Regions from separate parts of the Homo sapiens genome. Here all the other regions are linked to region 1. Evidence: fine-mapped expression QTL. A gene starts in region 1. Each other region holds a variant in brackets. All regions are shown on one strand. Distances are between the middles of the regions.

Region 1 (11,568 bases):
ACAAAAAATTGTTCAGTTTCTTCCTACAGTCCTTTAAGAAAAATGCAGCTGGGCGAGGTGGCTCCCACCGATAATCCCAGCACTTTGAGAGGAAGAGACAGGAGGATTGCTTGAGGCCAGGAGTTCCAGACCAGTCTGGACAGCAAAGTGAGACCCTTTCTCTACAAAAATAAAAAAAATAAAATAAAATAAAATGAAATAAATAAAATATAAAATTGGCTGGGCGCGGTGACTCACGCCAGTAATCCCAGCACTTTGGAAGGCTGAGGTGGGCGGATCACTTGAGGTCAGGAGTTGGAAACCAGCCTGGCCAACATGGTGAAACCCCGTCTCTACTAAAAATACAAAAATTAGCTAGGTGTGGTGGTGCATGCCTGTAATCCCAGCTACTCGGAGGGCTAAGCCAGGAGAATTGCTTGAACCCAGGGGGTGGAGGTTGCACCATCTCAAAAAAATGTAATACATTACATATATATAGTAATATATATAATATTACATATATATAGTAATATATATGTAATATTACATATATAGTAATACATATATATAATATTACATATATATAGTAATACATATATATAATATTACATATATATTATATATATAAGTTAGCCTGGTGTGGTGGCACACACCCGTAGTCTCAGCTACCTGGGAAGTTGAGATAGGAGGATTCCTTGAGTCCAGGAGGTTGAGGCTGCAGTGCCAGCTTCCTACTCTTAACCTCTCTCTCTTCTCTGAACATGAGTGAGGAAGCACAGAGCCCTGATCCTAAAGCTTGGAATGAGGCTAACCTGAGCATGGTAGAATGGAAAGGGAGAAAGAATCTGAGTCTTTGATGACAACATTGAGCCACTGGTTTGAACTGACATGAAGTGTACCCCATCCCCTAACTGCAGGTTTCATGAACCAATAACCTCCCTGATTGTTTAAGGCAGTTTGAATCATGTTTGCTTTATTTGCAACTGAAGCCGACTGCGTTCAGCAATGAATGATGATAATAATTATGACACTAGATCTCTCAATTCACCTACTACATCCTAAGTGCTTTGGAACCCCCAGCTCTCCATGGTTATTTTCATTTAACAGATGAAGATACCATCTGGGCACAGTAGTTCATACCCGTAATCCCAACATTTTGGGAGGTAGAGGTGGGAAGATTGCTTGAGGCCAGGAGTTCCATTCTGGGCAACACAGCGAGACCCATCTCTACTAAAAATACAAAAATTAGCTGGGACCTGTAGTCCCAGCTACTCAGGAGGCTGAGGCGGGAGAATCGCTTGAGCCTGGGAGGTTGAGGCTGCAGTGAGCTATGATGACACCACTGCACTCCAGCCAGGGAAACAGAGAGACCCTGTCTCGAAAAAACAAACAGGTGAAAAGTGAAGATGCTGCGGTTCAGGGAGGTTGCATTCAAATAATCACAAGGCCATGGAACCAGTTTTCAAAGTATTTAAAATAAAGTTAGGGTAGGGTGTCATGACTCAAACCTGTAATCCCAGCACTTTGTGAGGCTGAGGCCAGGGGATCGTATGAGCCTGAGTTCGAGACCAGCCTGGGCAACATGGTGAAACCCTGTCTCTACAAAAAAATACAAAAATTTGCTGGATGTGGTGGTGCTTGCCTGTAGTCCCAGCTACTCTGGAGCCTGAGGAGGGAGAATTGATTGAGGCTGGGAGGTCGAGGCTGCAGTGAGCCATGATTGTGCCACTGACTCCATTCCAGCATGGGCAACAGAATGAGACAGTGTCTCAAAAACACCACCACCACCACCACTAACAAACGACAACAAAAAACAAAGTTAGTTTTTTTTTTTTTAACAGCTCAGTGAAATAGGTAGGTTAAGTATTATCGCCAGTTTATGGATTAATTAGCAGCTTGGAGAAAATAATTGGCCTGGAGCCCAAGTATGGCTTTAAAACATGAGTAAGGCACTGGCAGAAGTGAAACTAAATAAATGAGCAATCGATATAGTTGTGTTTTTGTTGCCTGAGAGTTACAGTGATTGGGCAAGGGAGGTAACAGTTATTAGGGCACTCCTAAAAAGACTAGTGGATCTCAGACTACCCAGCTATTCCCACGTGCTAAGCAGATATCTTCAAGGCCATTTCTTGGGAATTGTGAGGGCAAAAGGTTTTACACTTTCTCTGTTGCACCAGAAACAGAAGCAAATGTGGCAATGTTGTTCAAGGAATCTTGCAAATTGTAGCTTCCTAGCTCTAAGCTCCAGTTATCTTACCAGCAGCCTCATCAGAAAGCCATATCTCAGCACTGAACTAATCAGAAAGGAAAATGGGGAAAATATCCCACCCATAGAACTGACAAACAATTTCAAATAATAAATTATACAGTGGTGGCATGGTATGAAGAAAATTGCAGCGGTCACATTGGCTCATGCCTGTAATCTCAGCGCTTTGGAAGGCCGAGGCAGGTGGATCACCTGAGGTCGGGAGTTTGAGATCGCCCGGCCAACATGGTGAAACCCCATCTCTACTAAAAATACTAAAATTAGCCAAGCATGGTAGCAGGCGCCTGTAATCCCAGCTACTCGGGAGGCTGAGGCAGGAGAATTGCTTGAACCCGGGAGGTGGAGGTTGCACTGAGCCGAGATCACACCACTGTGCTCCAACCTGGGCAACAGAGCAAAACTCCGTCTCAAAAACAAAAACAAAAACAAAAAAAAAGAAAGAAAGAAAATTGCACAAAACAAAGCTTGAAGAAAGGAGGAAAGAGAAGTGTTATATTTCTGGCTGGGAAGACTAAAACAGACCAACCCAGCAATCCTTCCCAAATTTAAATCCAATTTAATGCAGTTCCAATAAAACATCTACTGACATATTTTGGCATTAAATCAAAATGATCCTAAAGTTCATTTGAAATGGGAAATTAGTAGGGATAACCAGGATTTTAAAAAATAAAGAAAAGGGGACTTGCCTGTATGAAATTAAAATATATTAAAAACTGCAAAATATTGGGAAAAAGCACCCTACAATAACTTAAATTGTTTAAGGTCTTATTAAGTATATGATCTACAAGGGAAGAAAGGGAATATACATATATACACACTTAGACTGGGCAATTTGAATTTCTAGGAACTTATGATGTAGAAAAGCTTGTGTTTGTAGATAGATGGCTACCGAGATGTTCACTGCAGTGCTATTTATAATATGTAAAACAAACAGCTAAGAATATGTTCAGGCCAGCTGCAGTGGCTCACACCTGTAATCCCAGCACTTTGGGAGGGTGAGGTAGGAGGATCACCTGAGCCCAGGAGTTTGAGACCAGCCTGGGTGACAAAGCGAGACCCTGGCTCTACCAAAAAATACAAAAAAAATTTAATTGGGTGTGGTGATGTGCACCTTGTAGTCCTAGCTACTTGGGAGGATCTGGTTGGAGGATCACTTGAGCCCATGAGTTCGGAGGCTGCAGTGAGCTATGATTGTGCCACTGCGCTCCAGCCTGGGCAACAGAGGAAGACTCCATCTCTCAAAATAAATAAATAAAAAGAAAAAGGGGATTATGTTCATATGTTACGATGAGAAAACAGGTTACTAATTTTAAAAGTGAAAAATCTTTAAATGGTAATAACAATGCAAATTCACCTCTTCCCTCCAAAAAATAAAAAATAAAAATAAAATAAAATAAGTAAAGGTTATCAGGCATTTCCCTCTTCTCTCTCTCTCACTCTGTCTCTCTCTCACGCCTTCAGCCTGCAAACCTGAAGACTTCCTTTTTCTGAGAAGACATCAGGTAACTTGTTCCCGTGCCCCTGCCCTCCACGACCCCCACTGCTACTGGGCGTCTCGCTTTGGCGGAAGGTAGTGCGAGATCCGAGCAGGCAGCTCCACCATCAGAGCTGAGGAAATGAAACCAACTCGGTCCTGAGTTCCAGGAACTCGGACCGGGCCACCCTCACCCCTGGTTCTTCCCATCACCGTCCAGGAATTCGGCTGCAGCCCCTCGGCCCCGCCGCCTCCTGGGAAGACCCCATGCTCACCTTCGCGCCTCCCGAGGGGTGTGCGTCCAATCTGTCCCGTGCACAGTTCCAAAAAGCTCGCTCTTCCACCTTCTTTCCCACGACCGCCTCCTGCCCAGGCGAGAAGTTTGCAAACGCGAGGCCCGCGGGAGTTCCCCTGCGCCCCCTTTCCTGGTGCCCGCACCCTGCACTCTGCTGACTGTACCGGACGCCACACGTGGCTGGCGGCGACAAGGCGCCCCGATCCCTACCTGAGGGAAACCCCGGCCACTGCAGCTGCACTTGAGCAGGGTCCCTCCACTCAGCCACTTGGATGGCTGTTTCTGTCCAGTGCCCTCCGGAGGCCACTGCCTCAGGTCTGTGATGCCTGCAGAGAATGCTGCGACACTTCCCCCTCCGACGTGGCTCCAGCTGCCAACCACCAGGCTCACGGTGCCCTGGCTCCCTGGAGCCGCTTTCTAGGCAGCTCGGAGCCACGGCCCCTCCCTTCCTTCCTCCTGTCCTTTCCACACTCTTCCTGCCTTCCCCAAAGTCACTGGGTAACTACGCTGTACACGTCAGTACCAAGCCTTCTTTAGGGGCTGGGGATTCAGAATAGAATAAGGTCCCAGCAACTATTATAACCAGGACACAGTATGAGAAGGACTGGAAGTTTAGAGAAAAACTGAAAGTTGGAGAGAAGCTTCTGGTGTTTGCTTCTCTGTGCTGGATAATATTGGCGGGGTGGGGAGGGTACGAGGGAAGAGACACCAAAGTGGGAAAAAAGTCACTTCCTCTTCTAAGGTCATTGCAGAACATCCTGTTACAGTGTGAGTCAGGTTTTCTTAAGATTAACTACATCTTCAGCTAGAAAGTCTAAGTAGTGTTATGCATTTACTCAACAGACTATTTGCCTCTAAAAGAACAGAACTGGGAGCTGGGTGTGGTGGCTCATGCCTGTAATTCCAGCACTTTGGGAGGCGGAGGTGGCCAGATCACCTGAGGTCAGGAGTTCAAGACCATCCTGGCCAACATGGGGAAACCCTGTCTCTACTAAAAATACAAAAATTAGCCAGGCGTGGTGGTGCATGCCTGTAATCCCAGCTACTCGGGAGCCTGAGAGGGGAGAATCGCTTGAAGCCGGCCTTGGAGATTCATTTCTTCGCCTTGCTATTGTTCTTCGTCTCCTGCATCATCAGTTTTCTTCCTGTCTTAGGTGAAGAGATTGAGGTGAGGCAGGAGAATAGGGTCTGCAGGCAGGGAACATAAAGCTGATTCACGCTGACTTCTTAGAACTAAATAAAATGGACACATTTCAGCTATGACAGGAAATATTTTCTTCATTTACATATGGCGTTCACTGAGTAAGTGACTGAGCAACTTCACTTCATCTTCTTCATTTACATAGGGTGTACACCAATTAACCAATGGGAGCCTCTAGAGGGTATTTAAATCCCAGAAAATTCTGTAACGGAGTTCTTGAGCCCCTATGCTCACGCTGGCTCCCACCCTGTGGAGTGTACCTTTGTTTTCAATACATCTCTGCTTTTGTTGCCTCATTCTTTCCTTGCTTTGTGCATTTTGCCCATTTCTTTGTTCAAGATGCCAAGAACCTGGACACCTTCAACAAGTAACACAGGTGCCTGTGATTTATTGAAGGAAGACTCTTAGGAGAGTGGTGGGTATGATAGGGCAGAGGAAGAAAAAGTGAAACAAGTATGTAGTCAGTGGAGGCTCCATGGGGAGGTCTGGAATGTGAAGGTCTGGAACAAGAGGCAGCCTCCTTTCTGCCCAGGGCAATTCTTCTGGACGAGGGGGAAGCTGTGTGAGTGTTTAGCTGTCAACACTCATAGCAGCTGCAGGATGGGTATACTGATCTGCTATAAACAAAATCATACAATGTATAACCTTTTGGAAGTTTTTTTCTTTTCTTTTCTTTTTTTTTTTTTTTACTGTCCCACCATCAATGTACAAGACATTCAGTTTCTCTGCATCCTCAGCAGCATTTTATTTTGTCCCTGCCTGAATTTTTAGCTATTCTAACAGGTGAATAGTGATATATCATCATGGTTTTTTGTTTTGTTTTGTTTTGAGATAGAGTCTTACTCTGTTGCCCAGGCTGGAGTGCAGTGGCGCCATCTCAGCTCACTGCAACCTCCACCTCCTGGGTTCAAGCGATTCTCCAGCCTCAGCCTCCCAAGTAGCTGGGACTACAGGCGTGCACCACCACACCTGTCTATTTTTTGTATTTTTAGTAGAGACAGCGTTTCGCCATATTGGCCAGACTGGTCTCGAACTCCTGACCTCAGGTGATCCACCCACCTTGGCCTCCCAAAGTGCTGGGATTATAGGCATGAGCCACTGCGCCTGGTCTCATCATGGTTTTAATTGGCATTTCTTTAGTGCCTGGTGATGATGGACATGTTTTCATGTGCTTGTTTGCCATCTGTATAGCCTCATTGGTGAAATGTCTGTCCATGTCTTTTGCCCATTTTTAGTTGAATTCTTTTTAAAAAACTTGAGTTTTGAGAGTTTAAATATTCTAGATATTAATCCTTTGCCAGATAGGTGGTGTTCAAATGGTGGTGGAGTAACTGAACAAAAAAATGAACTTCACCTAAACCTCATATTCTATGCAAAAATTGCCTGAATGGATCAGAGATTTAAATGTAAAATGTAAAACAAGGAACCTTTTAGAAGAAAGCAGAGAGAACTGTGCAGAATGAAAGGACATTTCCTGTTGAGAAAATGTAAATGTTTGAAAAAAGTTTAGGGCCGGTCGCAGTGGCTCACGCCTGTAATCCCAGCACTTTGGGAGGCCGAGGTGGGCGGATCACGAGGTCAGGAGATTAAGACCATCCTGGCTAACACGGTGAAACCCCATCTCTACTAAAAATACAAAAAAAAATTAGCCGGATGTGGTGGCGGGTGCCTGTAGTCCCAGCTACTCGGGAGGCTGAGGCAGGAGAACGATGTGAACCCAGGAGGCGGAGCTTGCAGTGAGCCGAGATCGCGCCATTGCACACCAGCCTGGGTGGCAGAGTGAGACTCCGTCTCAAAAAAAAAAAAAAAAAAAAAGAAAAGAAAAAAGTTTAAATGAGCCCTTTAAAATGTTTTTATTTTTAGTAGAGACAGAGGTCTCCCTGTGTTGCTGAGGCTGATCTTGAACTTCTGAACTCAAGCAATCCTCATGCCTTGGCCCCCCAAAGTGTTGGGATTACGAGCTTGAGCCACCTTGCCTGGCCAAATGAGTCTATTTAATAAGAATGGCTATTCATACTAAAAATTGTACAATATTAAAAATAATTCCCAGTTTCTTTGGCTTTATCTTGGAGTTGCCATTTGAAAAAAAAAATCACAAACATTTGAAAAAAAAAAAAACTTGTAGAACATGTAGAAGAAAATCTTCAGAACCTAAGGCTAGGCGAAGAATTCTTAGGCATAACATCAAAGCCATTATTATTCTTTCTTCTTTTCTTTTTCTTTCTTTTTTTTTTTTTTGAGACGGAGTCTCCCTCTGTTGCCAGGCTGTAGTGCAGTGCTGTGATCTCAGCTTACTGCAACCTCCACCTCCAGGGCTCAAACAATTCTCCTGCCTCAGCCTTCCAACAAGCTGGGACTACAGGCATGTGCCACCACGCTTGGCTAGTTTTTTTTTGTATTTTTAGTAGAGATGGAGTTTTAGCATGTTGGCCAGGCTGGTCTCGAACTCCTGACCTCAAGTGATCTACCTGCCTTGGCCTCCCAAAGTGCTGGGATTACAGGCATGAGCCACTGCGCCTGGCCCCAAAGCCATTATTCTTAAAATTAAAAAATGATAAATCAGACTTGATCAAAATTTGAAACTTGCTCTGCAAAGACCCTTTTAAGGGGATGAAAAGACAAGTTACAGATTGGGAGAAAATGTTTGCAAATCACATGTCAAATAATATGCTTCTAAATAATTCATGAGTCAAAAAGGACATTTTCTCAAGAGAAATGAAGATATATTTTGCTCAATAAATTTAAACAGATCAAAATCATACAAAGCATCTTCTTTGACCACAATAGAATAAAACTAGAAATAAATAACAGAAAGAGAACTGGAATATTCACAAATATGCAGAAATTAAACAACATACACTTAAACAACTAGTGGGACAAAGAAGAAATCACAAGGGAAATTAGAAAATACTTCGAGACAAATAAAAGATACAACATGCCAAAACTTAGGGGATGCAGCAAAAACAGTTCTCAAAGGATAATTTATAGCTACATGGCTACAAAAGAGAAAAAGAGAGAGGCCTGGTGCCGTGGCTCATGCCTGTAATCCCAGCACTTTGGGAGGCTGAGGCGGGTGGATCACGAGGTTAGGAGTTCAAGACCAGCCTGGCCAACACGGTGAAACCCCGTCTGCTAAAAATACAAAAAAAAAAAAAAAAAAAATAGCCCGACGTGATGGCGGGCACCTGTAATCTCAGCTACTCAGGCGGCTGAGGCAGGAGAATCGCTTGAACCCAGGAGGCAGAGGTTGTAGTGAGCCAAGATCATGCCACTGCACTCCAGCCTGGGTGACAGAGTGAGACTCCATCTCAAAAAAAAAAAAAAAAAAAAGAGAGAGAGAGATCTCAAATCATTATCCCAACTCTACCCTTTAAGGAACTAGTAAAAGAAGAACAAATCAAACCCAAAACTAGCAGAAGGGAGGAAATTACCAAGATCAGAAAAGAGAAAATCAATGAAACTGAAAGTTAGTTCTTTGAAAAGATTAATAAAATTGACGAATCCTTAGCTAAACTAAAACAAAAAGAAGATGAAAATAACTTAAATCAGAAATGAAAGTGGGGACCTTACTATCTACCTTACAGAAATAAAAAGGACTATGAGAGAAAACTATGAACAATTGTTTGCCAACCAATTAGGTAACCTAGAGGATATGGACAAATTCCCAGGCACGCAAAATTTACCTAATTCACTCAATGAGAAATAGAAAATCTGAACATACCTACAACAAGTAAAGAAATTGAATTAATAATCAAAACTCCTCCAAACAAGTAAAGTCCAGGCCTAATAGTTTTACAGTAAATTCTACCAAACATTTTTTTCTTTCTTGGAGACTTTTATTTATTGTATTTATTATATTTTTTTATTATATTTTAAGTCCTGGGGTACAGTGCAGAATGTGCAGTTTTGTTACATAGGTATACACGTGCCATGCTGGTTTCCTGCACCCATCAACCCGCCACCTACATTAGGTATTTCTCCTAATGCTATCCCTTCCCTAGCCCCCACCACCTGACAGGCCCTGGTGGGTGATGTTCACTTCCCTGCGTCAATGTGTTCTCATTGTTCAACTCCCACTTATGAGTGAGAACATGCGGTGTTTTCTACCAAACATTTAAAAATAAATTACCACCAATCATTCTCAAACTCTTCCAAAAATAGGAGAGGAGGAAACACTTCCTAACTCATTTTAAGAAACCAGCATTACTCTGATACTAAAGCCAGATAAAGACACAAGAAACGAAAACTACAAGCCAATATACCTTAAGAATCCAGAGGCTAGCTGGGCGCAGTGGCTCATGCCTATAATTCTAGCACTTTGGGAGGCTGAGGCAGTTAGATCACTTGAGCCCAGGAATACGAGACCAGCCTGGCCAACATGGTGAAACCTAGTCTCTACCAAAAATACAAAAAAATAGCCAGGCATGGTGGTGTGCGCCTGTAGTCCCGGCTACTCGGGAGGCTGAGGTGGGAGGATCACTTGAGCCCATGCCACCACACTCCAGCCTGGGCAACAGAGCAAGACCCTGTCTAAAATAATAATAATAATAATAAAAAGCAATACAGAAAGTTACATGGATGTAAAAACCTTAACCAATTTAAAGCTCAGTTTTCCTGAGTAACTGAAACCTAATAAAGACAACATAGGAAATTGTCTTGGTAAAACATAAATTCTTTGTTTTTTTTTTTTAAGGCCAGTTACCAAAAAGATTAAGAAAAATTTCCTGTACTGTGATTGCTTCTCTTTATAGGAAGGCTGTTTAGATAACCTGAAAGTTACACCTGATGAAAAGAGTAATAAAATTTAATCAGACATAAGAAGAATGTGTCCAAGGTTATGAGGGTACACTGTATTATAGAAGAAAGTAGGCCAGGCATGGTGGCTCATGCCTGTAATCCCAGCACTTTGGGAGGCTGAGGCAGGAGGATAACGAGGTCAGGAGATTGAGACCATCCCAGCCAACATGGTGAAATCCCGTCTCTACTAAAATACAAAAAAATTAGCTGGGCATGGTGGTGCACGCCTGTAGTCCCAGCTACTTGGGAGGCTGAGACAGGGGAATCGCTTGAAACCGGAAGGCGGAGGTTGCGGTCAGCCGAGATCACACCGCTGCACTCCAGCCTGGGCGACAGAGCAAGACTCCATCTCAAAAAAAAAAAAAAAAAGGAAGAAAGTAAACAAACAAGAAAACTTGTACCTTGATAAGGGGAATAGGTGATTCTTAGCAACAGGATGGGAAGTTTTCTGGCAAAAATTCAGACACATCAAGAGTAGCCAAGAGTACAGAATCAAGGTATAGTGAAAGAAAGCATTGTTCTTCCAGGCCTTTAAGATAAACATTTCAGTGTCAGGCTATAAGGGCAGAGTTAGACTGGAGAAAAAAAAGTTATAAGAGGTGATGAAAAGGTTGAAGGAAAGAGTCACTATCCCAGGCAAGGTCTTGCTCTATTGCCCAGGCTGGAGTGCCGTGGTGTGATCATAGCTCACTGCAACCTCAAACTCCTGGGCTCAAGTGATGCTCTTGCCTCAGCCTCCGAAGTAGCTAACACTACAGGTGGTGTACCACTACACCTGGCTAATCTTTAAATTTTTTCATAGAGAAAGGGTCTTGCTATGTCGTCCAGGCTGGTCTTGAACTGGCTTCAAGTAGTCCTCCTGGCTCCCATTTCATAATTTTTAAAAACATGTTTTTCCATAATAAAATTTTTGGATGTATTAATAGACCCAATAAATGTAATCTTTTACAAAATGTAAGCATCAAAGAACACACTTGTATTTATATTCAGTAATTTTGTTCATTAAAAAATAATATTTTTCATATGGTTCATAAAAAATAATGTGTTCTTGTATTTCATTAAAAAATACTATTTTTTAATGAAACAAATTGACCCAGACATTTAACGAATATCTATTATTTTGTTTAACCTAACATAACTTCAAAATTTCAAATTACATGAAAAGTTCATTTATAGACATTTATCCTATTACATTTACCTAAGTTATTTATGTTTTTTTTTTCAAGACCTCACTCTGTCATCCAGGTTGAAGCGCATTGCCGCAACCTCGGCTTACTGCAACCTCCGCCTTCCTGGTTCAAGCGATTCTCCCGCCTCAGCCTCCCGAGTAGCTGGGACTACAGGCATGCACCACCATGCCTGGCTACTTTTTATATTTTTAGTAGAGATGGGGTTTCACCATATTGGCCAGGCTGGTCTCGAACTCCTGACCTCGCGATCTGCCCGCCTTGGCCTCCCCAAGTGCTGGGATTACAGGCGTAAGCCACCGTGCCTGGCTAGTCTTTGGAATTTTACCTGCGGGATTTTTTTGAGGCCTGAATTGAAGATACATTTCT
Region 2 (11,568 bases), 690 kb before region 1:
GAATTCATTATGTTATAAACAATTAAAAATGTATATAATGCAGCTTTCTTCGATCCAGAGTTCTGTTCTGTGAGTGGAACTACCAACCTATTATTTTAAAGTTTGCCTTTATATTGAAGTTTCTCAACTGCTTTTAATTATTTTCATTTTTCTTCCCTGAATCTTTTCTAGGTACATTACACTTTTACTCAATTACAGCAAACAAAGTAACATAGGATGGCAATTCTGGGAGCAGATACGTTATGGTCTTAAAATAGTATATTGTTATATGTTAAAAGGCGTAATAAGTCCTATATACAAGTCTGCACAAAATCTCAAATTGTTTTCTGCCTCAATTCTCAGCTGCAGGAATAGGTGTAGTTTTTTCTGGCTGGCTCCTACAGTAACTGGCAAGAGTCAAGATGGAAAAAGGTTTCTTTCCTTACTCATTAACCCAGAGAATGCTGCCAACTACTGTTTTGTTTAAGCTATTATTTTGGTCAGCTTTGAAAATTAAAAATATATATACAGTAATAAATGCTTTGGGAAAAAGCATGGTCACCACTTATAGAAAATATATAGAATATATTCTGAAACTCCACCTCAAAAAAATGCTGATGAAAATTAAAATGAGTATATAAGTCATGATTCAAAAGGTAGGAAACAGTGAAAATATATTCTAAAAAGCTCCAAAAGAAATCAAAGTAATATAGATTAAGCTATCTATCATAATAATACATATAAATAAGTTAAACACTCAGACAAAAATTCCTAGATTACATTTAAAGAAAAAATACAATTTACCTAAGCACTTAAAAAAGTGACACAGAAAAGTTGAAAAGTAGAAGGATAGAAAAAGATATGGCAGACCAACATAGACCAAAAGAGAGTAATAGTTCCTATGTCAGTAAAAGCAAAAAAACAAGGCCAAAAGTATTCAATGAATAAAGAAAGTATTATGTTCACAAAAGGTACAATATATATAATGCTATAATAGTCATTAACACTTATACATGGAAAAACATTGCCCTGAAATAGAAAAATAAATTTAAAAGAAGGAAAAATTAATAAACATAAGAAACACCAGGGTATAAATCTGACACATTAGTCAAAATGTAATAATACCTTCACACAAATCAAACATTTTAATAACCATGGAATTTAACATTAGTTTGCTATATTACCTAAAAAGAAATACTGACTAAATTCCAAACAGTAAAAATTACACAGGAAGTATTTTTCATTTTCTGTCCACAGTATAATGAACACTTAAGCATAAGCAAAACCAAATAGAACAAAACAAAAACCTTCAGCAATTTGAACACTTTTTTAGACCTCCTAATAGAAATTCTCAGATTATTTAGGAACTAATCACAATGATCATACCACTGCAGCAATGCTTAAGCTGCACCTAAAGCTATGCCCAGAGGCAAATTCATAGCCTAAATTGTTAGCTTATTAAACATTAAAGACTCAAAAGAAATGGCCTGAAATATTCAAATCCGAAAATTATGTAAGTGTGTGCATGTATTTAATGCATATAGTATAATTTTAAAGAACCCCATGTGCTAGCCCATCACAATCAACCTCTATACTTACAGGGGAAATATTAATACTTGGTGGTCAGCTGCTATCTACTATCTGTGGATGGAGAAAGGAAGACCTGCCAATAATGCACCACTGATATGCTTGGAGAACACTCTAACAAGAAAAAAAATGAAAAAAAAAAAATACCACTAAAACCAACATGAGCCTACACTAGCGATAAATACTAAACGACCTGCATCAGAAGTTCCCAAACACTGGTCTATACAAATAGTATCAAATTATTGGGTACCTATTGTAAAAAGTAACATTTGCACGTCTTTCCCTGGAACTTTCAAATTAGAATCTCCATGAGTAGTACATAAAGGTCTCTATCATAGTTACTTTTGGCAACCCACTAGATGCGGATCTTAATTTGTTAGTATCAGGCAATAAGGAAAATGTACCTTGTGTTAATGCAGAAAACAATAAAGAACATTTAACTTCAAGTCTCACTGAGATGAAAGAGGCTATTTCATCACTGAAGAAAGAGTAGAATAGAAAAAAAGGAAAAAGGAGGAGGAAGAGAAGGACAAGCCACCATCATCTAAGAACAAAAATGAATTCTTTGAAATAAAAAAAAGAATGAGGGTGTTTAATAATGGCAGTGAAGGGCAGAATAAAACTTACGAAAACAAAATGAGTGAATCAGAGGCCAGGAAGAATTCTCCATGCATAAGAGTTCTTAAAAGAGCAATTAGAAGAATAGGACGGCTTTGCAATGTGTTGGTTTGGTGAGACTGAACTACATTTCCCAGAATTCCATTTCTTGTATATACATACATCCTAATTATATACCACTGTTCTACGTAATTATCCATCTAATCTTCACAGCCATGTTACAAGCTTGATTCCATAACTATCCACATTTTAAAGGTAAGGAAACTGAGGCACAAAAGTTTACATGGTTTGCTCAAGGCCTCACAGCTAGTAAGTGTTGGACCTGGGTTTGATACTACCTCCACTGACTCAAGGGTACATCTTTTTAATTACTACAAATCACAGAGTAGTTAAGCCAGTAAAACTATTCATTGTCTAAATACTTGTTGCTAATGTGCTCCTGAAATTTAATGTACTTAGTCATGAGCCACATTATGACATTTTGGTCAAGGACAGATGTCTTATGGTGGTTCCATAAGATTATAATGGAGTTTGGGCATGTTAGCTCATGCCTGTAATCCCATTACTTTGCAAGGCCAAGGCAGGTGGATTACTTGAGGTCGGGAGTTCAAGACTAGCCCAGCCAACATGGCGAAACCCCATCTCTACTAAAAATACAAAAATGAGCCAAGAGTGGTGCCACATGCCTGTAATCCCAGCTACTTGGGAGGCTGAGGCAGGAGGATCGCCTGAATCCAAGAGACAGAGGTTACAGTGAACCAAGATTGTGCCACTGCACTCCAGCCTTGGCAACAGAGACCCTGTCTGAAATACAAACAAAAAAAAAAGATTATAATGGAGCTGAAGAACTCCTCTCACCTCATGATGTCTTAGGTTGGAATATAACCTTTTCTATGTTTAGCTACATTTAGATACACTAATATTATCTTTGTGTTACAATCATCTACAGCACTCAGTACAGTAACATGCGGTACAGGTTTGTAGCCCAGGAGCAATAGGCTAGACCACATGGCCTAGGATTGTAGTAGGCTGTACCATCTAGCTTTGTGTAAGAACACCGTGTGATGTTCACAGTACACCAACATCACCTAGTGAGGCACTTCTCAGAGAATATTCCCATTGTTAGGCAACACATGACTGTATATGGCAAGTCTACTGTGTTTGTGTTTTCCAATTCATTAGTTAATTTCTATTGCTGCAATGTAATTAACATGGTTGGTCATTTTCATTCCTAAATGTATTGTTTTTCCTAAATGGAAAAAAAAAAGTATACTCCTAAAAAATCCAAACTACAAAGAAATAAAGACAGCGAAAACACCCCATCATTCCTACCTCTGCTATCACTTTGTTGTACGTAATTCCAGACATTTTTTACGCATACTGCTAGAAGGAAGGCAGGGAAACAATTTGGGGAGAGTTACACAAGAGGCTTCATTTGAATGATGAGTATATAGGTATTCATTTAATTACTACTTATACCCTCTATATCTAACATTCCTTTGTAAGAATAATTTGATTGAAAAAATAAACAAGCTGCCTTTCACCACAAATGGCATGCTTATTAATATAGTCACTGAGTTTATTAAACTTTCTAACAGTGATCAGATATAAAAGTGTACCTTGCTACTCTGCAATTCCCAGGATTACCCTTAGAAATCTGAACTATATGCTATGGAAGTGCTTAAACAATAAGTAAAGAACGCTTGTACTCAGAATTGCCAATTACAACTCTGTAACTTTATGTACTCCCAGAACAAGCAAGACAACATATTCTTTTCCAGGACATTTTAATAAAAATAATATGAAACAGTCCTATGCTATGATAAAAGCACAGTTACTGTGTGCTCAAACACTGAATATTCCCATTGTGCTGCTTATTTAAAACAAAAACAATAAAAACAGGATGCAACAAGCACAGATCTAAGAACCTTCACACATATTAGCTCATTTAATCTTTATGCTGAACAGTTGAGATGGGGAACGTTGTTCCCATTTTACAGATAAGAAAGCCACAACTCAGAGAGGTTAAATCATATGCCCCATGTCACATGGCCACTAAGTGACATCTCCTGTTTCCAACCCAGGCTCCTGCCCGCAAGTCCAGTGTTCCTTCCATTACATCATTGAATAGGTTGGTTTTCCTAGTGGGAAACAACAGAAGCCAACCATGGCTGATGAAAAATGAACAAGGATAATAGGTAATGCAGAGAACTTGGGCAATACAGACAAAAAGACCCCAAATCACACCACAGAGCCAGTGGAGAGAGGGCACTACTGTCACTGCTAAGCACTAAAGAATACAAGCAGGGAACGCAGGATGTTCTCACTAATACACCAGCACTGCTGTTCCAAGAACACAGTCTTCATGCAGCCACTGCCCCTACCAAGGAGATGACCTTGAGAATGTGCCTTCCTGTGACTGTGGGGGTAACCCCTGGACTCTAGATGATGCCCACTTGTACTCCAGCTGCAAGAGGGCAAAAGGTGATCTGGTAGGAAAACAAATAACTGGCATTTTCAGCAAGAGGTAGACACCGCCTGCAATGAGACTCAGTAAGATGAGAGAGAACACAAAACATAGGAAGGAGACCCAGATACTGGGTGGTCAAAAAAGATGACAAGTGCTCACTGAAAGACCACCCTTTGACTGGTTCACATCAACAAACATTTTTCTTCCTCATACTTTTTCTCCCCACCTCCCAAAATAAAGCTCTTACCTAACCTAATACAACCATCCTTATCTAATCTAAAAGCATTCCTGGCCGGGTGGCGTGGTGGCTCACTCCTGTAATCCCAGCACTTTGGAATATCGAGGCAGGCGGATCACCTGAGGTCAGGAGTTTGAAATCAGCCTGGCCAACATGGCAAAACCACATCTCTACTAAAAATACAAAAATTAGCAGGGCATGGTGGTGTACAACTGTAATCCCAGCTACTCAGGAGGTTGAGGCAGGAGAACTGTTTGAACCCAGGAGACGGGTTGCAGTGAGCCAAGACTGTGCCATTGCACTCCAGCCTGGGCAACAGAGCGAGACTTCGTCTCAAAAAAATAAAAATAAAAATAAATAATAATAAAAGCATTCCTTCCTTCCTTCCTCCAATGATGAAAAAACTAAAGGCCTTTCAGTTGATGCCTCCAGCTATAAGTCCAAGATCTTCTCTGGTACTCTCACTCTTCAGTATTCTATTATCTACAGACTCAGCTGTAAAGTTAATCCCTAACATACACAGTGTCAGACAGTAGAGAAAAGAAACAGGAAAAGAGAATAAAATGTGTTAAGATACATAAACAAACATGAGACATAGCAGGTAGGAAAACATGGGCCTATGCTACAGTCATCTGCAGATGGATGTGAGGCTG[T/C]AGTGGGGGCTTTGTCCCTCCACTCTTTTCCTTCCACGTTCTCTTCAATTTCATTCTACTACTCAGCTGACCAGGTTTATCTACCCAATATGACGACCTGCCTTCATTCCTGAGGGGTTTGAGATATTGATGTGTTCTTCCATTAAATTTTAATCACTGGAGCAGTACAAGGTGGCATCCCAAAACATCCCTTGGGTTCCATACACCTTGTTGCTATTACATAGCAGTAACCTTATTGACCAGAACAATCTCCCATGCCAACCCAGAACATCCTTTTTCACAGATTTGGCCAATGACACAAGAAGTCTGCGATAGCTAGGTGGGTTGGTTTACCCTCTCATTCAATGCAATCACTGCTGTTCCCTGATGGAAACCATCTTCCTTTGGGTATTAAGCCTCTAAAGTAGCAGATCACAGGGTTTCGGAGATGGGAAATGTCCCAAATATAATTGCTAGGCATTCACCATTCCAACCATTTCTTTATTTCAACTACCTGACTCCAGAATTTTATCTACATGGGGTTTTCTTGAACTTAACTATTCTCGAAATGACTGATTCTTACTTCTCCAGTATCTTTTTTTTTTTTTTTTTGAGACAGGGTCTTGCTCTATAACCCAGGCAGCAGTGTAGTGGCATGATCATGGCTTACTGCAGCCTTGACCTCCCAGGCTCAAGCAATCCTCCCACCTCAGCCTGCTGAGTAGCTGGGACCACAAGTACATGCCATCACACCCAGCTAATTTGTTTTTTTTTTGTAGAGATGGGTCTCTCTATGTTGTCCAGGCTGGTCTCATTCTGGGCTCAAGCAACCCTCCCACCTCAGCCTCCCAAAGTGCTGGGATTGCATGCATGAGCCACTGCACCTGGTCTCCAATGATTTCATAAGCATCTAGTTACCTGCATGAAAGCCCTTTCTGCCTAAAATACCTGAAGTGATTTTTTGTCTCCTGCACTGAACCCTAACTAATACAGAAAGTAACTTTTGTGAGTGGGTCATTAGCTGTACTTGTAAGAGATACTATTGCCTTTTTCTCTCTCTTGGCTTCCAAACTTATACATTTGTTGTATGACTGACACAGGATCACATGCTGATCACTAGTTCAAAGCACACATCACGTCCCACAGGACAGCACCCCAACTTCACAAGGTAGTCTCTAATCTGAAGCTCTAACAGAGTCATCAATAGGCCTTTCTACCATTCTGGATGATTGCATAAATTGTAGGAAATGGTTGATCCGTCCTTAGTATCCATTCCTACCATTTCATATACGTTTTCCTAAGCTACAGAGGTTAGAAAACTACAATTTTATTTCACAGACTCCACTGCAGCTTCTGGGAGACTGCATGAATCTTCTGTGTTGTATCTGCTGCCTTACTTCTTTCAATGTAGAGAAACTATGTTTAGAAACTATGTGCTGTGGGACACCATCATGGGACGTAAAGCCTTCAATCAATCTAAGAATGGTAGGCTGGCTAAAGCATGGCAGGCAAGGAATACAAACGCAAATTCAAATTCAAAATTACTTTTGCTCCTTGATGATCTCTACTGATGATTAGTTAGGTTCTAGATGGTCCCCATTTCGCATGGTACCATATTGGGGGCTACAGCTAGCAAGTTGAGCATTCATTAATGGCAGTTGACAATGGTGGTTAAGGTAAAGTTTACAAGTTGAGGCCAGGCTACCACTGAATGTATTTATAATGCTAAAATAGTCCTCTTTGAGTTGGTGCTAATTTATGCAAAATCAGGGGTAATTAAGTGTCCACTTTTCCCCTTAATCATAGGAACCTCCCCTTGAAAACACAAGTGTGAGTTGAGAAAAATCTCCTTGAAGTAGATGCCATATATGGCACTCATATGATTTGGCTGTATCCCCACCCAAATGTCATCCTGAATTCCCACCTGTTGCAGGAGGGACCCAGTAAGGGGTAATTGAATCATGGGGACAGGCCCCATGCACTTCTCATTTTAGTGAGTAAGTCTCACGAGATCTAATCGTTTCATAAGGGAGAGTTTCTCTGCACAAGTTCTCTTTTGCCTGCTGCCATCTGTGTAAGACATGACTTACTCCTCCTTGCCTTCTGCCATGATGGCGAGGCCTCCCCAGCCATGTGGAACTGTAAGTCCATTAAACCTCTCTTCTGCAAATCACCCAGTCTCAGATATGTCTTTATCAGCAGTGTGAAAACGGACTAATACAACCACCTCTACTTGAAAACCCATTGCAGTTTAGTATACCCAAATACGTGGCTAAGTGACTCCTGTGACATGCATCACGGGCAGCTCAGATTGAATAGTTATCTAGTAGGTCATGGTTAAGCATTTAGTCTCTGTAAGACCCTTGAAGCAAGGGGAGAGCTGTTTCTCAATAAACTAATTGCTTAACTAAGAGACCATGGCTTCAATCTCAAACCCCAGGGCTTTTACTATGCTTCTCCTAATGAGACTTAATACAGTCTTCATACAGCATCACAATATGTCAAGACACTTAGAGTAATAAGCAATAAGGTATGTTCTGGCAGTCAGAGAAATCCCTCAGGAAAAAGAATTTCAGTTCTGGAAGTTGCAATTTTGAAGTAGCGAGGTGTTATGGGTGAGGCCCTGACAGCACTGGCTATATCTAGTAAGTGGCTTCAAGCAGCATAGCCCAATGTGGGATATGCTGCCTTCAGAATGAAAATAGACCCATCAGGTGCTGTTTCTTTGTTAGTGGTAGAGGATTCAAACTGCAGCATATATTGTGAAATGTTCCAAACCAATGAACCCTCAGAAACCCCTATAGCAACTATATCCTTGTATTTTCAAGAATACATCTCTCATTCTCTAGCATGCATGTGTGTTACCAGAGCATCTAGAGTGTCTACTGCTTCTATTCTCTTGATCATATCAGCATAGTGTCATTGATGTCCTGGACTAGTCTGATATCTTTTGGGATAATGAGATGATCTAGTTCCCTAGAGATTACATCATGGCTTGAGGTCAGAGAATTTACATAACTCTGAGGCAAAGTGGTAAAAGTATATTGCTATCCATGCCAAGTATAAGCTAAATGCTACTGATGTTCTAAATTTATTGTGATAGAGAAAACAAGATTTGCAAGATCAGTAAAGGCTATGTTCATTTGCTTCAGTAAAGACACCACATTTGGAACACCTGATTTAAGGGAAGTTATCACCTGTTAAGCTTATAATACTCTACCAGAATTCTCCAAGTATAGTAGAGAGTTATGTCAGGAAGCAACAGGAATCAGTTTCTCCACCTCTTTCAAGTGGCTTCTTATGACATTTGTCACTATGGTTCCCCCAGGGATGTGGTATTTCTTTTCATTTACTCTTGGTATTGAGAGGAATTCCAGAAGTTTCTTTCCATTTAGTCCTTTCTAGTATAATAGGTGAGAAGCCAGTATGAGGTTCCATCATTGTTGATTATATATATTCCAATGGTACATTCATGAATTAAAGAAATACAGTATGTATTCAAGGTCCCACTGGGCCTACAATGAGACAGATATGAGTTAGAGCTCCATCACCTGAATTCCATAAAACCCATACTCAGAACCACAGAAGAAGCACAGTGTGTTCTGAGTCACCAGGACTTAGTGTTAGCCCAGAGCTAATGTCTAACACTTTCTGAAAGGTCTAAACATTTCACTTCTCCCCACCAAGTTCCCATTTACTCAAGTTCCCATTTAAATGGCTTAGGTCACTTTGTAAAAGGATAAGAAGATGTATAGCCACTAATTGAGACGTTATTGTAGCTTACTCTTTCTCTCAAGGGTATTTGACTTCCCCTTTATTTAAAGAAGCCTGGAACTATAAACTTTTATAGATTTGGGACTTTGTTGAGAGGTCGTGACCATTGTGGTAATTCAAGTCAGGCCTTGATTTATCAAGTATGCAATTTCTGTTACTCTTATTGAGTAGAACCTAATTGGGCTAACAATGTATTATAAATCTAGCTACTTCCAAATATTAAAGTTGATCAAACCATTATCCCACCAGCTATGATGCATATTACAATAACCATAACCACCTTGTCTCTAATGGTTTGGAGCTGCCACTTAGCCTCTGCCACCCTGGGATCCAGTAAACTCCCTGAAATCATGGAACCTTGCTGTATCTCTCACCAGCATCATTAGCTTACAGAGAATGGCCACTTTGGCACTCTTCCAAGACCTGGAACACTCTCATTCCTGTATTTCTAAATAACTGAAGAGATTATCTTCTGAATCCTCTTAGAGAACGTGGTACAGTTAGGCAAAGATGATAAATCCATTCCAACGTTTCTAACTTCCTGAGGAGTTGAATGCCTAGTGTGGCATCTAGCACACTCACTCACTTGGGGCTACCATATTGAATCCAGAATCTGTGCTAAGTCAATCCATATCAACAAATTCAGCCAAATTTAAAATTATACTCTTTCCTTGTTCATTTGCCTTGAGAATCCATTTAGCAGATTTTTGCAAATAAAAATTATCAACATCTTGCAGTTTTGACTTTGCAGTTGGTATTCCAAGGCATGCTGAGATCTGTCTTTAAGATAGGGATCTGGGGATGGTGAATGATGTTGAGAATGGGCCATAAGGAGGATGGAATTCCCTTTGCAAAGGGGGTCATTCTGGTTTTCGAGTAAGACAGGCAAGAAGGCTGCTCCAGCCAACAAATGAGACTCATGAGGCTGGGATCTCATCATACTCTGTCCCTTCCCCATATCTCTACCCCAGTTCCGAGGTTCTCCTCTCTCAATCAATACACTTTCACACCTGGCTGTAAATTCAACTGACTTGGTAGCTCAGCAACCTTGGGATTCAAGTCTTAATTTACTTTTAATTTCTTCAGCTTTGTGCCTGCAAGAGAGAAGATATTCTTTTGATACTATTATAGAAAGTCTCTATCTAAGCCAAGAATTTAGGACTTCGAGCTTATTCTTTTTTTTGGATACGGAGTCTTGCACTGTCACGCAGGCTGGAGTGCAGTGGCGCAATCTCAGCTCACTGCAACCTCCACCTCCCGGGTTCACGCCATTCTCCTGCCTCAGCCCCCCGAGTAGCTAGGACTGCAGGTGCCCGCCACCACATGCAGACAATTTTTGGTATTTTTAGTAGAGACGGGGTTTCACCACGTTAGCCAGGATGGTCTCAATCTCCTGACCTTGTGATCCACCCGCCTCAGTCTCCCAAAGTGCTGGGACTACAGGCGTGAGCCACTGTGCCCGGCCCGAGCTTATTCTTTTGCCTTGAACTGTCCAGCACATTAGAAGCAACCAGGCCTAGTACTACTTATTTATCCATTAATGTCTTAAGTTGCAAGTAACAGAAACCTACATTGGCTTACTGGAGCAAAGACGATGCTCATTAAAAAATATTATCTAGCTCACAGAATGGTTGTGGAAGCTGAAGATCCAGGTTCAGCAATACAAAGCTAGGTTTAATGCTAGCGTCACAGCAGAGAACTCTTCCACTGAGGACATCCCTGCTGCCACTGCTGAGTCCTGGTCAGTGCAGTCTGCACTGCAGACATACCCATCAACAGACACTAGATGCCATGACCAGCACTATCACTTTTGCTCCCCAGGAACTCAGTCTTTCTACAGCTCACCTCAACTCTGAAATGAGGGTGTCCTATGAGCAAAACCTGGGAACACACCTGTATTCTCACTGTCACACAGCTTTGGAAGTGTTATTTCTCTAGTGGGAGGTGAGCGCCACTAAGACTCATAGCATTGCAGAATTCCCCCCAAATAGAAAAGAGATTCTGATACTAGAGATTTATCAAAACACCAATTATATCCCACAGAATAAAATGAAGACAAAAAAATGTTAAGGGGTTTCTAGAATTGAAGATGATGCATCGAAGTAATAATTTGTCCATAAAATTGACAGATTTAAAACGTTAAAACACTCAATGCTGGTAAGATGTGGGGAAATGGCATTCTTACACCCTATAGAAGTGAGAGCTTTCTGGAGTAATAAAGCAGCACAGTGCTCACCCCAAAGCCTTTCCATTTCTTCTTTTGTGCCCAT
Region 3 (10,220 bases), 24 kb before region 1:
CAGGTGTGAGCCACTGCACCCGGCCCCTTCTCTCTTTTGTCTGGGCTTTGTGGAAAGTCTGGGAGATTTAGGTCTAGGGTATGAGAGAGAGATGCTTCCAGGGAGGGAGACAGTGTAAGGAAGCTATGGAGAAGCAGCTGATGACATGGTGAGATAAAAGTCTGCATCGAGGAAATAATCCCAAGGATGCTGAAAAAAGGAAGGAAGGCAGACAAGGAGGGAGGAAAAAAGGAGAAAGATAGTCAAAAATAAAACAAGAGAGAGGAAAAAGAAGAGAGATAGAAAGACAAAAAGACAACAAGATAATGCTGCTGTGGTGGTGCCTGTTGTCCTAGCTACTCTAGAGACTAAGGCAGGAGGATCACTTGAGCCCAGGAGTTTGAGGCTATAGAGTGCCATGATCCTACCTGTCAATAGCCACTGCACTCTGGCCTGGGCAACATAATGAGACCTCCTCTCTAAAAAAAAAAAAAAAAAAAACCATAAATAGGCAGACAGATAAATAAAGGAAGGAAATAGGCAGGAAGAAAGTAATCTGCCTTTCCAACCCACTTTGGATAAAACAATGCCCTCTGGAAGCCCTTACACTATTGACATTGGGGCTGCCAGAGAGTTCTTTGTGTGGTGGGCTGTCCTATGCGTTGTAGGATGTTGAATAGCATTCTTTTTTTTTTTTTTTTGAGATGGAGTCTTGCCCTGTTGTCCAGGCTGGAGCGCAGTGGCGTGATCCTGACTCTGCAACCTCTGCCTCCTGGGTTCAAGTGATTCTCTTGCCTCAGCCTCCTGAGTAGCTGGGACTACAGGCATGCGCCAATATACTTGGCTAATTTTTGGGTTTTTAATAGAGACGAGGTTTCATCATGCTGGCCAGGGTGGTCTCAAACTCCTGAGCTCAGGCGATCCACCCACCTTGGCCTCGCAAAATGTTGGGATTATAGGCATGAGCCACCGCGCCTGGCCAACATTTTTTTTTTTGAGACGGAGTCTTGTTTTGTCACCCAGGCTGGAGTGCAGTGGTACAGTGGCGTGATCTTGGCTCACTGCAACCTCCCAGTTTCAAGAGATTCTCATGCCTCAGCCTCCTGAGTAGCTGGGATTACAGGCATGTACCACCATGGCTAGCTAATTTTAGTAGAGATGAGGTTTCACCATGTTGGCCAGGCTGGTCTCAAACTCCTAACCTCAAGTGATCTGCCCATCTCAGCCTCCCAAAGGGCTAGAATTACAGGCATGAGCAACCGCACCCAGCCATCATCCTTGGCCTTTATTCACTAGATGACAGTAGCACACTCCATCCTACCTCCCTGGCCTTATGACAAACAACAATGTTTCAGACATCACTAAATGTTCCCCGGATAAAACCACCCCTCGTTGTAAACTACTGCCTTGGAGCTGGTGAAAAGGAAATCTTTCACAAGTGTGAAATAATGATGGGGCTCACGCTCTTTACACCAGAAAGAACCCTACCATCCACAGAGGGCCGCACAGAGGGATCATGGGCCCGGCACTCATCAATGATCTCCCGCAGCTCTGAAGGGCAGTCTTCACCCAGTGGCTCCTGCTGCCGCTTCACAGCCACCAGCTTGCGGATCTTCTCAGAATTACAGCCTGGAAATGATAGCATGAGAGCCTCAAAAAATTGCTCCGCTACTCGTACATCTCTCTGGATGCTGATGGCTGGCATCAGAACTAGGGACTCTGAGTATGGAAACAACAAGAACTTCCAACGATTCCACTGACCAGCCCAGGCAGTTCCCACATTAAACAACAAATTGCCAGGGGCAGCACTGATGGGGAATTTCTGGTCTACTGGAAGGGGACCCAACCTCACCACTGGCTGAGCCAGTCTTCACATTCTTCACCTTGAAACGGGATATCTCCAGTGGCGATTTCCCAGAGGACGATTCCAAAGCTAAAAGAAAACCAAGAAACTGAACAACCATAACTAGTCTCCCCTTTCCCCTGTCCCTCTAGCCACTGCCAGAAAACTCAGTGAATTTTTTGATTACTACCCAATTTCATTCAACAGAGTTGAGTTTAGGTGGTCCTTGGAGGAGTTTGATTTGGGTTTTCCTATTATGCACATCTGAGTTAGAATCTGTACCAGAACGTGAGTGTACCTGTATATTTCAGACTTTACATCATATTGATAAAATACATCTTCCAGTTCCTGAGGTGAGAGATATGCTGTAGATTTGACTCTGTCTGTCTTTTCTCTCGTAGTTCCCAAACTCATGGAAGTCTGTGTTTTCCTCAACTCAAATCCTGCAAGCTAGATAGAGAGGCAACTTAGAAAGAAACAAGCAAGATCTTGGGTAGAGGAGTAAAGGGCAGGGATTGTTGCTACACACAATTGCCAGGGAATTGTCTTTTACCTTAGGGATTTATTTCCTGTCGTGACTTCTGTCTGTGTGGCTACTTTATTGGTTAACATTATGGGTTCAACTTATCACAGTGCAGTGACCAAGAGAAACACAAAGAGATTTCTTCTGTATAAAATGGGGCGATGACAGGGGGGATTACTTGAGATAATGGTTATAAAGCACCAGTAAGACCTGCTAAGTTGTAGTTGTTGCCAGTATGACTATGTTAAAATGTAGGGGTTTCTCAGTTGAGGACTGAACTCCACTCAGTGAGAGTGGAGAGGGGTCATAGAGCCACTGCCTGGCTCGCCTTTTCCCAAAGAAGCAGATGGAAAAATGGCATGGGGGCATCCCCTCTGTGCTATCTGACTTTATGGGGGGTCAGCCTGATCCTTTGGCTTTGGCGTGACGAGTGTGAGTCATCCCCCCAGGCCTGCGCGGTCACCTGGTGTTCTTAAAGAAACTGTAGCACAATCATGACAGCATATGTTCTTGTCCCATGCACACCTGCCATTGACACCATTGGTGTGCTGAAGGCTGCCAGCCCCAAACTCAGCCAGGTACCCAAATCTAGGGGCAATGTGAGAAAAGGGATAAGGCACTTAGATGGCTCATCCCCCTTTCATTCATTCATTCATTCATTTGCTCACACGTTTCCTGAGCACTGACATTCTCTTACATCTAGCGCCGTATGGGATACCAGGGATGAAAGGTGGAATAGCGCATCTTATAGTCAGGCTGCATGAAGAGCGTGAGAGTAGTAGAAACAGTGTTTTGGGAGTACTTATATCACCATCGCAGAGGGGGAAAGGCATCTGAAAGGCAAAAAAGGCCTGTCTGCTATTATTTGAGGGCTGTCTCTGACACTCGTAGGACTGGAAGAAAGAAAACCGTCTATGGATGACAAAGAAAACTGCTAAAATTCTTTTAGCATTTGGGAATTGTGGACACTGAGTTCACAAAATCTTTTCCTCTTCTGTATGAAAATCTGACTTCCAGTGAACTTCTTAGCTCTGTTCCCCTGGAAATCTGATACAGGTAGACTGTCACCTATGGCTCTTAGTAACATTGCTGATGATGAAAATAAAAATGACTGCTGATTGTTAGATTGCTTCTGGGCAGGATCAAGGGGGTAACAGGACTACACAGTAAACAGCTGATGGGAATGCTTTGTAGCAAATTTTT[C/CTTAT]TTATTTATTTATTTATTTATTTATTTTTTGAGACGGAGTCTCACTCTGTCGCCCAGGTTGGAGAGCAGTGGTGCAATCTCAGCTCACTGCAAGTTCTGCCTCCTGGGTTCATGCCATTCTCCTGCCTCAGCCTCCGGAGTAGCTGGGACTACAGGCACCTGCCACCACGCCTGGCCAATTTTTTGTATTGTTTAGTAGAGACAGGGTTTCACTGTGTTAGCCAGGATGGTCTCGATCTCCTAACCTCATGATCCACCTGCCTTGGCCTCCCAAAGTGCTGGGATTACAGGTGTGAGCCACCGCGCCCAGCCTCTTTTTTATTTTTTGAGACAGGGTCTCATTCTGTTGCCCAGGCTAGGGTATACAGTGGCGTAAACATAGCTCCCTGCAGCCTTGACCTCCTGGGCTCTAGGCATCCTCCTCCTGCCTCACTCTCCTGAGTAGCTGGAATTACAGGTGTGCACCACCATGACTGGCTGATTTTTAAATTTTTTGAAGAGGGGGAGGTCTCACTGTGTTGCCAAGGCTGGTCTTGAACTCTTGGGCTCAAAGTGATCCTCCTGCCTTCCCTTCCAAAGTGCGGGGATTACAGGCATAAGCCACCATGCCTGGCCATGTAGCAGCTCTTTTCTTTTCTTTTTTCTTTTTTTTTGGAGATGGAGTTTTGCTGTTGTTGCCCGGGCTGGAGTTCAACCACGCGATCTCGGCTCACTGCAAACCTCTGCCTCCCGGGTTCAAGTGATTCTCCTGCCTCAGCCTCCTTAGGAGCTGGGACTAGAGGCGTGCGCCACCACACCCGGCTAATTTTTTGTATTTTTAGTAGAGACAGTGTTTCACTATGTTGGCCAGGCTAGTCTTGAACTCCTGACCTCAGGTGATCCACCCGCCTTAGCCTCCCTAAGTGTTGGGATTACAGGCGTGAGCCACCATACCCAGATGTGGCAGCTCTTAAAACAGCAACTCACATGTCACTTGCAGAAACACTGGAAGGCATGCCTGCAGAGTTGTTACCAGAGATGCTGACTCCTGCAGGTCATGGGCTTCTAAGCCTGGATGACCCACACCCACCTAATGGGAGCCTCTTTCTCCAGCACCTGTGGCTCTGACAAAGAGAGTATCTCCTGGATGACTGCGAGGACTCACCCTGGAGGGAAAGGTTTGGCGCTGCTGACATCCTTCTAAGTAACTGAATGACAAGTGTGGCCTAGACCTGTCCTGTGAGTCTGAGTCCTTAAACCTAACAAGATCCCCCATTGTATGTTGTAGGGACATAGAAGTGGTGTCCAGGCATCTAAGGGGAAATGACTTGTAGCCCATCCCTGCTAAATGGGCAGTGAGGGAAGGCAGTCATCAGAACAGGCGGCATAGATGGAGACTGTTGTGTGGTGGGCACACAGAAAGTTGAAGTTAGTTCTGAAACTAAAAAACTAAAATTGAACTCAGTTCTAAAACCAAGGCAAGGCCGGGCATGGTGGCTCATGCCTGTAATCCCAGCACTTTGGGAGGCCCAGGTGGGCGGATCACTTGAGGCCAGGAGTTCAAAACCAGCTGGCCAACATGGTGAAACCCTGTCTCTACTAAAAATGCAAAAATTAGTCAGGAGTGGTGGTGCATGGCTGTAATCCCAGCTACTTGGGAGGCTGAGGCAGGAGAATCGCTTGAACCTGGGAAGCAGAGGTTGCAGCGGGGCGATCTCGCTCACTGCCCTCCAGCTTGGGTGACAGAAAGAGACTCTGTCTCTAAATAAATAAATAAATAAACTAAGACAAGAATCAAGCCTTTCTGAGACACTCGTGCCCCTCTCATAGCACCAGTCATGCAGGTTTGACCCAAAGCGCCCCCGCAAGGCACACTCACCTTCACTTGGTAGCCTTGAGTTACCAGGAAGTTTGAGCTTCTGATTTTTCCGTGGAGTTCAGGTGCTTCTGAATGGTGTAGCCTGACACAGCCAAAGGCGGGGAGCATAAGTACCTTTGCCCAAACTTTCTTTGGGGGACTGACAATCATAACTGGGCTGATGAGGCTGGACAGTACCATGGGTGCCTGTCCACAGTTACACAGGAAAAACTGGGATGTAGAGGCAAGGTTTGAGAATCACAAGCCGTGAGTATAGAACAGAGATGAGATTCATAGCACAAGGGGGCATGACAGCCCTTATGAAGTGCATGCAATCGGGCATCAGGGGTGCCTTTAGGTAGAGAAGGACAACGTTGCCTCTGTGTTGCTTTGCCTGGGAAGTGCTGGGCAGATCCGAGAGCTCAGAGGCATGGCTGGGTGGCTGGACCTTGCTGGGACCCTTCAGGTCAAAGCAGAATGTGAAGCTGGGGTCCCGCTGACTTCCAGACAAGGGCTTTGGTTTCACAAAGCCCCTGCGTCCCAGGTTGGGTTGCACTCATGGTGTCTGCCTGAGCTCAGATTCTCCCAGAAGCAGATCATGAGCCATGATTTGGGCACGAGGGATTTGTATCAAGAAGGTGCTCCCTTGACCAGGCATGGTGGCTTGCGCTTATAATCCCCACACTTTGGGAGACCAAGGTGGATGGATCACTTGAGGTCAGGAGTTTGAGACCAGCTTCGCCAACATGGTGAAACATCATCTCTACTATTAATAAAAATACAAAAAAATAGCTGGGCGTGGTGGCATGTGCCTGTAATTCCAGCTATTCAGGATGCTAAAGCATGAGAATCACTTGCACCCAGGAGGTGGAGTTTGCAGTGAGCCGAGATCACGCCACTATACTCCAGCCTGGGCAGCAAAATGAGGCTCTGTCTCAAAAAAAAAATAACTCCAAAAGTCCCCCAAACAAACAAAAAGAAGGTGCTCCCAGGAGAAATGGTTGAGGGAGTACAGGAAGTAGGATGGCGAAGGAGAAGAAATCAAGCAAGAGGTTGATTTCAGGTGAAATCCCAGGCTCAGGTGGTCTCGCGGAGACCTGTGGGCACAATTACACCTCAGAGTGTGTCCCACAGGAAGCAAAGGAACTGGACTTTTATACTTACACCAGTCAGTGGTTATGGACTGTGTTGGGGAGGGCAGGGACAGATGGATATAAAACTCGTGGGCACTTTCAGCTGTCTATAAGGGTGAAAGGGCTCCAGTGCCCACAGGCAATCCTCTGAAGATTGCAGCTGTGAACTTTCAGCAGCAAAGCATGCCGAGAGGGGGATGGGTAAATAGAGCTGGTAAAAAGGATCAGAGGTCATTTGGAGGGGATATTAACAGTGTCCCCTACAACATCCAAAAATACTTCTCCTTAAACTCACTAGTTTAGGGAGTTGAGAAGAAACAAACTTAATTTCAAATTAATAGCTAAGACAGTGTTTCCAAAAGTGTGGGATAAGGTGGTATGCAAGATTATATAAAGGGAAAATTACTCTCCTTTCAGTTTGCTCCAGTCTTTCTGATTACATCAAGAAGAAAGTCTGCGTTTGGTATTTTTTTTTTGTTTTTTTGTTTTTGTTTTTTGTTTTTTGTTTTTTTATGAGACGGAGTCTCGCTCTGTCGCCCAGGCTGGAGTGCAGTGGCACAATCTCAGCTCACTGCAACCTCTGCCTCCCAGGTTCAAGCGATTCTCCTGCCTCAGCCTTACGAGTAGCTGGGACTATAGGTGCGTGCCATCACGCCCAGCTAATTTTTGTATTTTTAGGAGAGACGAGGTTTCACCGTGTTGGGCAGGATGCTCTTGATCTCTTTACCTTGTGATCTGTCCGCCTCAGCCTCCCAAAGTGCTGGGATTATAGACGTGAGCTACTGCGCCCAGCCTTGGTGTTGGGTATCCTTAACTCTGCCAATATCTCCAATATCTCCATTGTACAAAGAGAATGTGGGTTGGATCACAGAGCTTCTGGCAGGCAGCCTCATCCAGCCAGAATTTAATTACATTGTTTTGGTTTCATTTGTGGTTACCTATTTTTGGCAAGTGACACTGGTTTTCAATTTATGGTAGTAAGAGAAAGTGTCCTTTTTAAAAGCTTTATTTCAATTATTATTATTATTTTTTGAGATGGAGTCTTGCTTTGTCGCCCAGCCTGGAGTGCAGTGGTACGATATCAGTTCATTGAAACCTCCGCCTCCTGGGTTCAAGTGATTCTTGTCCCTCAAGCCTCCTGAGTAGCTGAGATTACAGGCCTGTGGCACCATGCTGGGCTAATTTCTGTATTTTTAGTAAAAACAGGGTTTCGCCACGTTGGCCAGGCTAGTCTCCAACTCCTGACCTCAAGTGATCCACCTGCCTTGGCCTCTCAAAGTGCTGGGATTATGGGCGTGAGCCACTGGGCCAGGCCTTTATTCCGATTTTTAAAAAGTGAGTCAATGTAATGAAAAATGTTAAGTAAATAACACTGGTAGTAGTATAGTTAAAACCCTGCAGATGGTTTGTGAGTGACTAACCTTTGGGGACCCTTGGGACTAAGAATCCATAGATTCTGCAGGTGAGAATAGGTAGAGTTGCCAAATAAAACACAAGACACGGCCGGGCGCGGTGGCTCACACTTGTAATCCCAGCACTTTGGGAGGCCGAGACAGGTGGATCATGAGGTCAGGAGATCGATACCATCCTGGCTAACATGGTGAAACCCCGTCTCTAATAAAAATACAAAAAAATTAGCCAGGCGTAGTGGCAGGCACCTGTAGTCCCAGCTACTCGGGAGGCTAAGGCAGGAGAATGGCATGAACCTGGGAGGCAGAGGTTGCAGTGAGCCGAGATCGTGCCACTGCACTCCAGCCTGGGCAACAGAGGGAGACTCCATCTCAAGAAGAAAAAAAAAGAAAAGAAAAAAACACAAGACACTCCATTAAATTTGAGTTTCTGATAAGCAATGAATATATAGATTCACGTACACGCATATATATATGTACAAGCATGCCCACAAATTGTATAGGACATAGTTGTACTAAAAATAAATGTTTATCCAAAATTTGAGACTGGGTGCAGTGACTCATGCCTGTAATCCCAGCACTTTGGAAAGCTGAGGCAGGAGGATTGCTTGAGCCCAGTAGTTCGAGACCAGCCTAGGCAGCATGGCAAAACCTTATCTCTACAAAAAATATATATAAAAAAAAAACTGGCTGAGTGTAGTGGTGTGCGCCTGTAGTCCCAGCTTCTCAGGAGGCTAAGGTAGGAGAATCCCTTCAGCTCGGGAGGTTAAGTGATCTGTGATCATATCAGTGCACTCCAGTCTGGGCAAGAGAGTGAGACTCTGTCTCAAAACATAAAATAAAATTTGATATTTTTGATATTTAGTATAAGTATATACCATGCAATGTTTAGGATGCACTTATACTAAAAAATGATTCATTACTTTCCTAACGTTCAAATTTAACTGGATATGTTCATTTTTATGCTAAATCTGTCCACTCCAAAATTAGGGCTCATCCAACTCTATAAGTGCAGTGTGGACATCAATTTCAACCGTCAGTTCTGGGAGCTGGTGTTCCCTGGGTTAAGCCTCTTTCCTCCCTCCTATCTGTAATCAGAGTAAATAGTAAAACAGTGTATGGGAGGGAGACTGTCTGGGGCGTCTGGCCTGTTCTCTCACCATCTCTGGGAGTATCAGGAGTGTGGACAGACCCATCCAACCCTTAGTGGCGCCTTTTCACCCCGTCTTACCGGTATAGGCCTCGGGCTGCCCCCAGGACTAGGACCATGCGCTTGCCAAGTGTGAGGTCTTTTTCCCTATCCAACAGCTCCCTCAGGGTCCCGAGTTCACAGTACTCCATGACAATGGAGAATTGAGGCGGAGTCACTGGTGGAAAGGAGCCAGACACTATGAGGACCCGCCCTACTTGAAGCTTCCCATGTCTGCAGCCCACCTCTCCCAGCCTCGGTACAGATACAGACTTGGCTCTGCTGAGTCCCATTTCTCCCCCAATCCTCAGCCCACAGTTTTGGTCCCCGGCCTCCTTGAATGGACCAAATATGCCCAGAATTCCCATCCTCTTCTCCATAATACTTGGCTTGTCGTAATTCTACCTTAAAAAAAAAATTGGCTGGGTGCGTTGGCTCATGCCTGTAATCCCAGCACTTTGGGAGACCAATGTGGGTGGAACACAAGGTCAGGAGTTTGAGATCAGCCTGGCCTACGTGGTGAAACCATGTCTCTACTAAAAATACAAAAATTAGCTGGGTGTGGTGGCAGGTGCGTGTAATCCCATCTACTTGGGAGGCTGAGGCAGGAGAATCACTTGAAGCTGCGTGGCAGAGATTGCACCACTGCACTCCAGCCTGGGCAACAGAGTGACACTACATCTCAAAAAAAAAAAAAAAATGTTCTGCCAGGTGTGGTGACTCACGCCTGTAATCCTGGCTCTTTGGGAGGCTGAGGCTGGTGGATCACTTGAGGCCAGGAGTTCGAGACCAGCCTGGCCAACATGATGAAACCTCGTCTCTATGAAAAATGCAAAAATTAGCCAGGTGTGGTGGGACATGCCTGTAGTCCCAGCTATTAGGGAGGCTGAGGCAGGAGAATTGCTTGAACCTCGGAGGTGGAAGCTGCAGTAAGCATATTGTACCACCGCACTCCAGCCTGAGTGACAGAATGAGACTCTGTCTCAAAAAAAAAAAAAAAAAATTCTTTTTCTTTTTCTTTTTTAACTTCTATCTCCCTTTCTTGGTATAATTCAAAATTTTCTTGAGCAGTTATTTGGCGAATGTCTTCCTCACTCAACTGGA

Evidence for each region. PIP is the estimated chance that this variant, and not a neighbour inherited with it, causes the effect.
Region 2: its variant is fine-mapped to the expression of MLKL in whole blood (INTERVAL, PIP above 0.99).
Region 3: its variant is fine-mapped to the expression of MLKL in whole blood (INTERVAL, PIP 0.94).

Annotation. Positions count from the first base shown.
Region 1 is chr16:74,696,459-74,708,026 of GRCh38, forward strand. It overlaps MLKL (mixed lineage kinase domain like pseudokinase), which reads right to left and starts at 4,404. Exons shown (of 11, transcript NM_152649.4): 1 at 3,995-4,404. RefSeq lists an enhancer at 3,858-4,307.
Region 2 is chr16:74,007,583-74,019,150 of GRCh38, forward strand. No RefSeq gene overlaps it. Among named protein-coding and RNA genes, the nearest start is that of PSMD7-DT, 200 kb to the right of the region's middle. The variant T/C (reference allele first, on the strand shown) is at 5,546.
Region 3 is chr16:74,673,493-74,683,712 of GRCh38, forward strand. MLKL (mixed lineage kinase domain like pseudokinase) reads right to left here. Exons shown (of 11, transcript NM_152649.4): 6 at 9,159-9,294; 7 at 5,407-5,488; 8 at 2,121-2,272; 9 at 1,863-1,912; 10 at 1,468-1,608. Among named protein-coding and RNA genes, the nearest start is that of RFWD3, 12 kb to the left of the region's middle. RefSeq lists a silencer at 8,575-8,773. The variant C/CTTAT (reference allele first, on the strand shown) is at 3,549.